4 separate regions of the Homo sapiens genome follow, and regions 1, 2 and 4 are each linked to region 3. The links come from fine-mapping of genetic effects on gene expression. A gene starts in region 3. Each other region holds a variant in brackets. All regions are shown on one strand. Distances are from middle to middle.

Evidence for each region. PIP is the estimated chance that this variant, and not a neighbour inherited with it, causes the effect. A credible set is the group of variants that fine-mapping cannot tell apart.
Region 1: its variant is the best candidate, but not a certain one, in a credible set for the expression of CACNA2D2 in whole blood (TOPMed, PIP 0.83).
Region 2: its variant is the best candidate, but not a certain one, in a credible set for the expression of CACNA2D2 in CD4 T cells (BLUEPRINT, PIP 0.68).
Region 4: its variant is the best candidate, but not a certain one, in a credible set for the expression of CACNA2D2 in cerebellum (GTEx, PIP 0.78).

Annotation. Positions count from the first base shown.
Region 1 is chr3:50,449,563-50,452,168 of GRCh38, reverse strand. All of the region lies in intron 2 of CACNA2D2 (calcium voltage-gated channel auxiliary subunit alpha2delta 2), which reads left to right. Among named protein-coding and RNA genes, the nearest start is that of CACNA2D2, 53 kb to the left of the region's middle. The variant AG/G (reference allele first, on the strand shown) is at 1,532.
Region 2 is chr3:50,411,759-50,414,364 of GRCh38, reverse strand. All of the region lies in intron 3 of CACNA2D2 (calcium voltage-gated channel auxiliary subunit alpha2delta 2), which reads left to right. Among named protein-coding and RNA genes, the nearest start is that of TMEM115, 54 kb to the right of the region's middle. RefSeq lists an enhancer at 1,954-2,453. The variant A/G (reference allele first, on the strand shown) is at 1,492.
Region 3 is chr3:50,502,608-50,505,213 of GRCh38, reverse strand. CACNA2D2 (calcium voltage-gated channel auxiliary subunit alpha2delta 2) reads left to right here and starts at 1,580. Exons shown (of 38, transcript NM_006030.4): 1 at 1,580-1,996. The coding sequence starts at 1,791. RefSeq lists enhancers at 452-960, 961-1,469.
Region 4 is chr3:50,405,592-50,408,197 of GRCh38, reverse strand. The region is part of intron 3 of CACNA2D2 (calcium voltage-gated channel auxiliary subunit alpha2delta 2); the gene reads left to right. Among named protein-coding and RNA genes, the nearest start is that of TMEM115, 47 kb to the right of the region's middle. The variant ATGG/G (reference allele first, on the strand shown) is at 1,582.

The DNA of each region.
Region 1 (2,606 bases), 53 kb after region 3:
GGCCAAGGGACCAGGCCTCTGTGCACCCCCACTCCACCTCTGTGACCACAGGCAGTGGAGCCACATCTGCTCGGGGTACAGCCTGGGGAGGGACTCGGATGAGAGGAGTCAGCAGGCAACACCCTTGGCAGTGAGGGGATGAGGGCCTCGTGCCGAAGGGGTAATCTGGGTGATGCAGCCCAGCATCCACATCATGAGACTTGTGCAGCTTGGACCCAGGTTCTGGTTATGCCTCTTGCCAGCGCTGAGGCCTCGGGTGAGTCACAAGAACTCTCTGAACCCAGTATCCCACCTGCAAAATGGACCATTGCCACGCCTCCACCTCCTGGGGTTGGTTAGGAGTGGGGTCTGAGGTGGGCTCTGAGACACAGTGTGAGCTTGAAGGGTGCACCTGTGGGACAGGGCCAGGTTCCAGTCACCATCCAGGTGGGAACTAGGGGGCCTCTCAGCAGGCTCCCCATCCTCTCACTGGACAGGCCCCTGGCAGCCAGGTTTGAGGAAATGGGAGACATGGGCTAAGTCTGTACCATCGATAAAACCCATGGAAGTTGTCCAAGCACTTGGTCAAGGGGCCAGGGATGAAAATAGTGGAGGGGCATGCAGAGGGTATCTGCTCAGCCTGCTCAGTGGGTTAATTAGCGTGGATGGAGGTAGGCTGGGTTCAGGGGCCTGAACTTCAGGATGACTGGTAGTGTTCAACAAAGTGTCAGGCAGCCTGGGGAGGGGCCTTAAAACAGCCCCTGGGCCGTGCGTGTTGACTCATGCCTGTAATCCCAGCACTTTGGGAGGCCGAGGTGGGCAGATCACCTGAGGTCAGGAGTTCAAGACCAGCCTGGCCAATATGGTGAAACCCATCTTTACTAAAAATACAAAAAATTAGCTGGGCATGGTGGCGCACACCTGTAATCCCAGGTACTCGGGAGGCTGAGGCAGGGGAATCGCTTGAACCCAGGGGGCAGAGGTTGCAATGAGCCGAGATCGCGCCATTGCACTCCAGCCTGGGCAACAAAAGTGAAACTCCGTCTCAAAAAAAAACAGCCCCTGGTGGGAGGGATAAAAGTGATGATGGCAGAGGCAGGGTGGCTGTCCATGGAGGGGGCACTAAGGGCCATTGGGGTGGATGAGGAGCCCCTACAGAGGTCATGGACTGGTCACTTTTGAGGCCTCTGTAGGCACAGTGGTTTTGTACACACCACAAATGAGTCCTCATTTCCAAGGGCCCCATGTAGGCGGGGAGACAGCTCAGAGGCAGGTCCCATGTCCAGGACTGGCACAGGGTCAGAGCCCCTGGGTCTTGTTGGCTAAGGACACCCGTGACATCGGCCAGTGTGGCTGGTGCGGTGGGGTGTGACGTCGGCGGGCGTCTTGCGGATGTGACTGTGGGCAGGGAGGGGAGGCCTGCCGATGGGAAGGGAAGGCTCTGAGTCAGGCATGCGCGCAGCAGGCCTGCCTTTTACAAACGATCATCAGCCTCAGTGTTCCAACAGCCTCTTTCACTCTGTAAAAGCCTTTTCTTTGGAAAAATAAAAGA[AG/G]ATTGGAGGCAAGTACAATATTTGGCTGTGGCGGCTGCTAATTTGGCGCTGAATGTCACCTCCGCCTTTCTCTTCTCTGATGCCAAGTGCTCCTTTCCTGGCTCTGGTGGGCGAGAGCAGGGTGATGGGGGTGCAGGGCGGGCTCCAGAGCCTCTTAAGATTCGAGATTCATTTCCTTAAACACACATTGTCTCACTCCAATTTCACGTCCGAGCAGTTCTGGCGAGGAATTAGCAGCTCCTGGGAGAGAGTGGCGGGTTCTGTTTACACGGGGCGGGGGCAGGGTAGGGGAGGCGGTGCGGGGGTAGGTGGGGCTTGGGGCCCATTTGCACAGGAAGCCCACACAGGAACTGGGTCAGGGACTGCCTCACCTGACCCGAGGGCCCTCAAAGGGAGCCAGGCCGATCCGCTGTCAAAAGAATGTGTGAATCCTGCCCCATTTTAGATGTCCTGTGTGCATGGAAGGTGGGGCTGTATAGTGATTTTGGGGGCAAATCAAGAATATTGGGCTTTCAGGTTGGCCTAAGTCTCCACTGAGAGGACTGGTTGAGACCTGGGGGCCACCTTTAGCTTGCCCCCTTCTGTGGCTTGGGGCTCACAAACTCTGGAGGCTGCAGTTTGCTTTGAGTCAGGCTCCATGGACCCCTCCTCACATGGAGCCTCACCTCCCACTATGTCCCCTCCACAGCCCTTGTGAGCTTGGGTGGTGACAGTCCTGTCATTGTGTGGGAGAAGCAGCTCCACTTCATGGGTGAAGCCCCAGAACCCAGCCCTAGGTCTCTCTCCCACCTACTCAGTCCCTAGGGCCCGGGCTGAATGCCTGTGTCTCTGATGGGGAGTGTGGTGGGCAGTCCTGGGAGTACAGGCTCCCCCCGCCCCAGGCCACCCTCTCTTCATGGCCTCAAGGTCATTCTGAGTGTGGTGTGGCGGAGGCATCACAGGGCCACGCTTTAAGACCCTTCTTAATGGTGTCCTTTCAGGCTGACACTATTTTCATCCCTGGCCTTGATTTGGGCCTTCTTGGCTGGGCTTGTTTTTGTATGGCTTCTGAGGCTGGGTCTGCCCTTTTATGCC
Region 2 (2,606 bases), 91 kb after region 3:
GATGAGAAGACTGCAGAGACCCCAGTGGTTTTCTCCCTGTGTGAAGGCAGAGCTGTTCACTGTAAGGACCATACCTGGGCTTGGCCACGCTTGCACGGTGCGGGTATGTGGCTCGGTGGCTCTCTAACCTTGGGCTCTGTGTGGGCCTGTGGGGGTTGGGCATGACTGTGTGCTGTTTTTGCGGGTCCAGAGCTGCCTGGCGTGACTGCATGCATCTGTGAATGAGATGTCTGTAGCTGTGCTGCATGGGCCTCAGAGGTATGGTTCTATCTAACTCATTTCTGTCCCTGCACTGCAAGGTAAAGGAGGCTTTGGAAGACAGATGGCCAGAGGGCACTAGACATCAGAAGGAATGGGCCAAGACTGGCTCAGCTACTTTAGGGATGTCCCAGGTTTCAAGGGGGCTGCATGGCAAACTGACTAGGGGGGTGGGTTTCATGGGGGAAATGGGGCCCTGGCAACCGAAACCCTGGCTTCTGCTTCATGCAGCTGAGGAGCCTTTTATTTATTTATTTTTTGAGACGGAGTCTCAATCTGTCACCCAAGTTAGAATGCAGTGGCACGGTCTCGGCTCACTGCAACCTCTGCCTCCCAAAGTCAAGTGACTCTCCTGCCTCATCCTCCCAAGTAACTGGGATTACAGGCGTGCGTCACCACACCCGGCTAATTTATGTATTTTTAGTAGAGTTGGGGTTTCGCCATGTTGGCCAGTCTGGTCTCGAACTCCTGGCCTCAAGTGATCCACCCACCTCAGCCTCCCAAAGTGCTGGGATTACAGGGGTGAGCCACCATGCTCAGCCAGCCTAGGGACCTCAACCTCACTTGGGGCAACTTACAACGGGGAAGCATCCCACCCTCCCAGCAGAGGCCTCAAGAGTCCCGCAGTGCTTGGTCCAGAGGCCTCCTGACTCCACACAGCCATGGCCCAATTCCAGTTAATGGTCTCTGACCCAGGGCTGAGGGTCAGGGGTTGGAGAGAGTTGGTAGAAGAGGCAACAGTTCCCCCTGCAGTATTCTCTGAAAACCACCCCCACTGAGGAACACCCTCACTTCTGCCCTATTCTTACCCCCATCTCTCCTTCCTGAGCCCTGAGACAAGGCACCAGATACCCTGACTGCCCCCAGTCCTGGCCAGCTCAGGATTCAGGCCTCTCCCTTCCCCCTCCTCATGCTCCACCACCACCCCCCTACCCCAACCAGCTCCGCTTCCTAGGTTTAACACAGAGGTGGCAGCGGCAGCAGCAGCTGGGTGGGATTTTATAACCCTAATTCACACTGATCCCCTGGGGCCCTAGCTCTAGACTCCTCATGCAGCCTGAGACCAGCAGAGCACAAGGTGGGGAGGGTCCACCCTCGTGCCAGGTGAGGGAAGATGGAGACTCGGCCTCTCCCTGTCCCAAGTCCTGGGCCCTGGCAGTCACCCTAATAGAGGGCACCGGGAGACCAGGGAGGGGGTGCCCAGCACCCCCCCAGGCTGAGATGGTGCCAGAC[A/G]TCTCTGACCATGAGTCCCTGACAACCAGGCCCTCTCCCCTCCAGATAAAACTCCACGGTGACATCCTTCCATTAAATAGGGCATGTTCAGAAAAGAAAATTGCTACTGTTTTCCCCTTTTACTTCACTGTCATCAAAAATTGATCCCATATTGCATCCTTATTTCAAAGAACGAGCTAAAAAAATAAAATAGAAATTCCCACTCCTCAGAGCAGCAGCTGCATCAAGCCTCCCCCACCCCTATCCTCTCCCTCCCCACCCCCTGCAAAAAAAAGAAAAGAAAAACATGGCCAATGAGGGAAGGCGCCTGCTGGCCGCCTAGGGCTGTTGAGTGCCCATGGCTTTGGGATGCACGAGACCTGGGAGCAAGGAGGGGCTCAGCACGTGACTGTGCAGGCAGAAGGGGATTTCGATCTGGTGAAATGTGGTAGAAAATGGGGTAATTGGGGGAGGTTAATTTGGATCTAAATGGAGCGATTCGTTATCTCAATAAGAAATGTCTCGTTTTCCAGGGAGACGGCTGCGCCTGCCAGATGCTGGCCTGCCCACCATTGGGGTGGTGGCTCAGAGCAGGGCCCACAGCCAGCCTAGCCTCACAGGGCAACCCACCCTGCCCAGATGTGGGGGTTGTGGGCAGAGATAGCTTAATTTGGTTGATTCCCCAACTCATTTGGCAAAGTATTAATTAGCTCTTCTCAAAAGCACATCCAGTAAAATTGCAGAATATGAGTAACAATGACGGGGCAGAGGCCGAGGTGAGCAGCCTGCAGACTAGGCACTTGCTCTAGCTGAGCCCATGGGCTCACCCTGAGCCTCCTGGAAGTCAAGGGAGACCTACCCAGTGTTTTGTGTTCTAACCAGAGGAGAAGCCCAGCGTGGCTTGCCATGGGAAGGTGTTTGGGGGTTGTGGGGGGATTTCCAGGATGGTGCCCCTCAGCCCATGCACCTTTGCTAGGAGCAGGGTCTGGGAGCTGGCACCTGGACTGTAGTGTGACCCTGGGCATGTTGCTCCTCCCCAAGCCTCAGAGCCCCATTCGTTCTTTCCCAGGGGCCACAGGCAGAGGCTGCTGGCAGTGCTGGGAGTCCTGGTCACACAGGTGTGACCATCTCAGGCT
Region 3 (2,606 bases):
TGTGTCCAGAGGTGGCAGGGGGGCAACTGGCTCAGTGAGGACCCTGCTTGTCCCCCCAAAGAGCTGGACTATCGTCTCCCATAGTCCATCAGGTCCCACCTGTCCACCAGGCCCCTGGCCCCTGCGTTGCCTTCCTCTGATACTTTTTTTGGGGTCTCATGGTTTGGGATCTGCTGGCAAACCTGTCTGGCCCCTGAAGGCTCATTCAGGTCAAGGGAGGAGGACACTTCAAGAAATGAAGGAAACTGTTCCCTGTCAAGCCCTGGTTTGCTGGGATTGGAGAAGCCAAGGCAGGACTAGGCAGCAAGGGAAGGCTGTCCTAGGCCCTATTTCCAGCCCCTACCCCTACCCTTTTCAGTCCAGGGGCTACTATTCCCTTTCAACTGCAAGCCCTCCTTGGGCTGACTTGTGAGTGGGTGATAGGAGAGCCACTGATACCATGAGGTGGGGCATCTGGACATTTCCGAACCATCCTGCCCAGCTGGTTACTATCCCTCATTCCTCGTGATAGGCCAGGTCTGTGGGCAGTTATTGCTGAGGGGGTCCTGCCCTGTGTCAAGTTGGTGGGGAGCATTCTCTCATCCTATCTGCACCAGAGGCAGAGCTGGGTTCCAGGGTAACTTCAGTAGAATCCTAGGGATGGTCTCCCCTCATTGTGAATGCTTCAGTTTACCAAGAGATTCTCCCCATTCTCACTTCATCCTGGAAATGGGAGTGGGCACCCACACAAGCATTCACAAGCGAGGACACTGAGGCTCTGAAAGGGCCACAAGCTGTGGAGTCAAGGTTGACACCAGCCCCAGTCTTCTGCCCACAGCAGGGAAGAGCCAGGGGCCTCCAGGACAGAAAGGACTGGGTTGTGCAGAGATGAGCTTCCTGGCTCTGGAAGAATCTAAACAGAGGCTGTGCAAACTCCGGGAACTGGGGCTTGGGACAGGCCTGCACACAGTGCCTGTTCAGCCCAGGGAAGCGAAGCGAGTGGCTGCAGAGGGCTGCATCCTGCCGTCCCCAGCCCCCCACAACCGTACAGCCGTGCCCAGGTTTCCGCTTAGGGAACCAGGAGGTCCAGGCCCTTTCTGCCAGCAGCCGGGCGTGCAAGCCCCCGACAGAGAGAAATCTTAAAGATAGCTAGAGCCACGGGGGCTGTAAGTTCAGCATGCCTCCTTTTCTGGTCTCCGCTGAAGCTGTCACTCCACCATTAAACCTGTGACTCTAGGCCTTAAGCCTGTTGAAGGTCGAGCCCCCAAAAGGGTCACATATGCTCCTGCCTTGGGCCGCGGGGCCCGGGACTCTTCCCGCGGGTGGGGTGGGGAGGAGCGGCAGGGTCTGAGGTGTGGGGGCGGGGGCGCACCCGGGGCGCTCGGGTAGCAGCTGGGGCGCAGGACGCCCGAGCCAGTAGGGCAGGATTCGGGCTGCGCGGGGACGAGAGGCGCGCGGGCACGGGTGGGCGCGTGGCCGCGGCGGGGGCGCGCGGGGGCGGGCCAGCCCGGGAAGAGAGAGGGAGGGAGGGAGAGAAGAGGGCGGTGCCGGCAGGTTGGCGGCGGCTGCTATTTGAGCGCAGGTCCCGGGCCGGGCGCTCAGAGCGCTTGGAGCCAGCGCTGCAGGGAGATAGCAGCGCGCAGCCCGCAGAGGCGCTGCGGCCCGTGCAGCCCCGGAGGCCCCTCGCGGAGAAGGCGGCGGCGGAGGAGAGGCCGAGTTACCGCCCGCCGCCCGCGCCCCCCCAACCCCGCCGCCGCCGCCGCCGCCGCCACTGCCCCCCCTCCCCGCGGCGCCGCATCTTGAATGGAAACATGGCGGTGCCGGCTCGGACCTGCGGCGCCTCTCGGCCCGGCCCAGCGCGGACTGCGCGCCCCTGGCCCGGCTGCGGCCCCCACCCTGGCCCCGGCACCCGGCGCCCGACGTCCGGGCCCCCGCGCCCGCTGTGGCTGCTGCTGCCGCTTCTACCGCTGCTCGCCGCCCCCGGCGCCTCTGCCTACAGCTTCCCCCAGCAGCACACGTAAGTGGCCTCGGCCGGCCGCGAGACCCCGGCCGAGCCTTGCGCCCCGCTCTGCCCCCGGTCCGCGCTACTCCTTCCCTGCGCTCCGCGCCAGGGCAGAGGCGCTGGGTCCGGCTGCCCGCTGCGCCCGGGGGCGACGGCCCCAAGCCCCGAAGGCTGGCAGCCGCGGTCCCGGCGCTCTGGCTGCGTCGCGAAACTTCCCCGCGGTGCCCCTGCTTCCCCCAAATCCCCCGAATGAGGCAAGGCAAGATCTTCAAGCCCCGGGAGGAGTTGGGGGGGGGCGGTCCGAGCTTGTCAGCTGATTCCCCTGCCGCTGACCCGGTGAGAGGGAAACCCGGGTTGGGTGAGAGGGGCGGCCAGCGACCCCTGTCCGGCGGAGTTGGAGCCGCGCATCTGCCCCACGTTCCCTCCCTGGTGGGAATCCGGCGCTTTACAGCCAGAGGTGAGGGACATCTCCACACCTGCCTTCAAGGGCCTTTTCCTTTAGTGGGGAGCTGTATGCTGATGATGCGAGCACCTTCTTGCTGTGGCCAGTGCCACAGAGGCAGTGTCCCCTGTTCTTGGCCCCCCTCCACCTGAGGAGAGAGTACCCTGGAGAGCCCAGTTGGGA
Region 4 (2,606 bases), 97 kb after region 3:
ATGGACAAAGCTGGATTCAGTTTGAGCTCTGCCATTTGATCATTGTGTGGTCTTGGGTGGGTGAGTCACCCTCTCTGAGCCTTGGTGACCTCGTCGGGGGAATGGGAATAATGATTGGGCTTCTTGGGGCTTTTTGGAAGCATGTGTGTGAAGCAAGGTGCAGATAATGAAATGAGGTCCTGTGGAAGAGGCTGGGCCATGTTCATAAGCACAAACACCTACCGCACCAATCCCTGAGTCCAGGGAGGCCCAGGAGAATCGAAGGCCTAAATCAGCTCCCCTGGCCTCCACTGCCCTCCTTCCTACCCCCACATCTTTGCCCTCTGGGCATTACTTCCCTTATCCCCTTCATCTGACCTTGCCCTTCAAGTTTTGCCTGGTGCTCCCTTTCCCAAAGCCCACCTGGCTTAGCCTAACCATACTCCTCTCCCATAGGGTTTATGTGCCCTTTGAGACAGCCTTGGATGCTCACTGTTCTCCTCTCATGTCTGCCTTCATCCTCACAGTCTTATGAGGCTGGGACTAGTAGAAGCCCCGTGTTAGGGAGGAGGTTATCAGGATTCAGAGAATGGTATCAGTTCTGTGCATTACACATGCAGCTCCTGGCTCTGCCCCATGGGGTACTGTGGCTGCTGGTCACTGTCTGCCCAGTCCCAGGTCCTACTAGAACCAGGAGAGTAAGCTAAGCCCCAGTCTCTTCAGGGGCCCTGGTAGAGTGGACAAGCACCCATTCCACCCCCTGGCCTTGAGGGCTTTCCTCCTGAAGCCCTCATGATCGCCAGGAACAGGGTCAGAGCAGGGGTCAGAGCCCACGAGTGGCAGGCCTAGGAAGTCTAATTTGGCCAGCACCATGGTTCCATCTGAGCATGTGATGCAAAAGCCACAAACAGGCCTTAAACAGGAGAGAGATCTGGCCCTGACCTGTGATGCCTCAGTACAGGTCCAGGCTCTGTCCCTAATGGTACAGTGGCCTGACAGTCCTTCCAGGCCTCAGCTCCCCCTTTGTATAGGGGGGCCAGTGGGCCCCTGACCTCGTTGTCTTCACCTTGAAGGGATGATCATCAAGGCAGACCCTGCCTGTGGTGTGTTTAGTAAGAGTGCCCAGGGCCAGTTCTCCATGTCCAAGGTCACAGATACCTAGATCAAGCACCTAGGTCAAGGTACCTAGATACAAGCACCAATATCCAGGTTGATTATGAGCTCTCTGGTCACTGAGTCATTTGTTTACAGGTTCCCCAACCCTCTGATGATGCTGGAGGGTGATGGACAGAGAAAGGTGAAGAATGAGTTGTCTCTGTCTCTTCATCAGACTCTTCTCAGGGATACAGAGGTGATGGTGCAGGTAGCAGTGAGCACAGTGGTAGTGGTGATTACCAGGAGACATGAGCACTAGCAGAGGTGACCACAGTGGGGTGATGGTCGTAGTGGTGACAGTGATGGTAAAGGTGGTGATGGAAGTGATGTTGGCAGTAGAGTTGATGGTGGTAGATGAAGATGGTGATGATGGAAGTGATGACTATGGTGATGGGGATGAAGGTAGTGATGGTGGAGCTGATGGTGATGGGAGTAACACTGATGATG[ATGG/G]AGTAATATTGGCAATGGTGATGGGGAGGATGTTGGCAGTGAACATGGGGACATTGGTGCTGGTTAAGTGGGGGGAACAACAGTGATGATGGGGATGATGGTGAATGGAGTAGCATTCTGGTGGTGCAGGGATAATATTGATGGTGGGTGATGGGGGTGATAGGGCTGATGGGGGGCTCCCTGTGGAGTGTACCTCTGAGGGGCAGTCCTCCAGGCAGCCCTGTCCCACTCGTGGGCTTTGCCCTTGCTGGAGGCAGGACACAGTGGGGCTTGCTTGGTGCTTTTTTTCTTTTAACCTCCAGTGAGCACAGCCTTCTGGGTAATGAGATGCAAATTGACAGAAAAGACAATGAGCCAGCCTGCGGCCAGTGGGGCAGCTTTTAGAGTCAGGCTGATTGCCTCTGTGCCAATTTGCATGGCATTAGCTGTGCATGTCTTCTCCAATGGGTTCGTGTATTTCATTAGCGGTCACCTGGATGGCTGCATCTGACAAAGGGCAATGACCTGTGATCCCAGACCAGGGGGCAGGGGCAGAGCCACTCTGACTCTGACCTGAATAGGGCTCCAGGATGTGGCTACAAGAAGTCTGAATCTGTGGGGAAGGGCAATGGATAGGGGGTAGAGATTGGAGAGTTCTCATGATCGCCAGGAACAGGGTCAGAGCAGGGGTCAGAGTGCATGAGTGGCAGGCCTAGGAAGTCTGGTTTGGCTAGCACCATGGTTCCATCTGAGCATGTGATGCAAAAGCTACAAACAGGCCTTAAACAGGAGAGAGATCTGGCCCTGGCCTGGGATGCCTCAGTACAGGTCCAAGCTCTGTCCCTAATGGTACAGTGGCCTGACAGTCCCTCCAGGCCTCAGTTCCCCCTTTGTATGGGGGGGCCAGTGGGCCCCTGACCTTGTTGTCTTCACCTTGAAGGGATGATTGTCAAGGCAGGCCCTGCCTGTGGTGTGTTTAGTAAGAGTGCCCAGGGCCAGTTCTCCAGGTCCAAGGTCACATATTTCAGCCCACTGAGCAGACC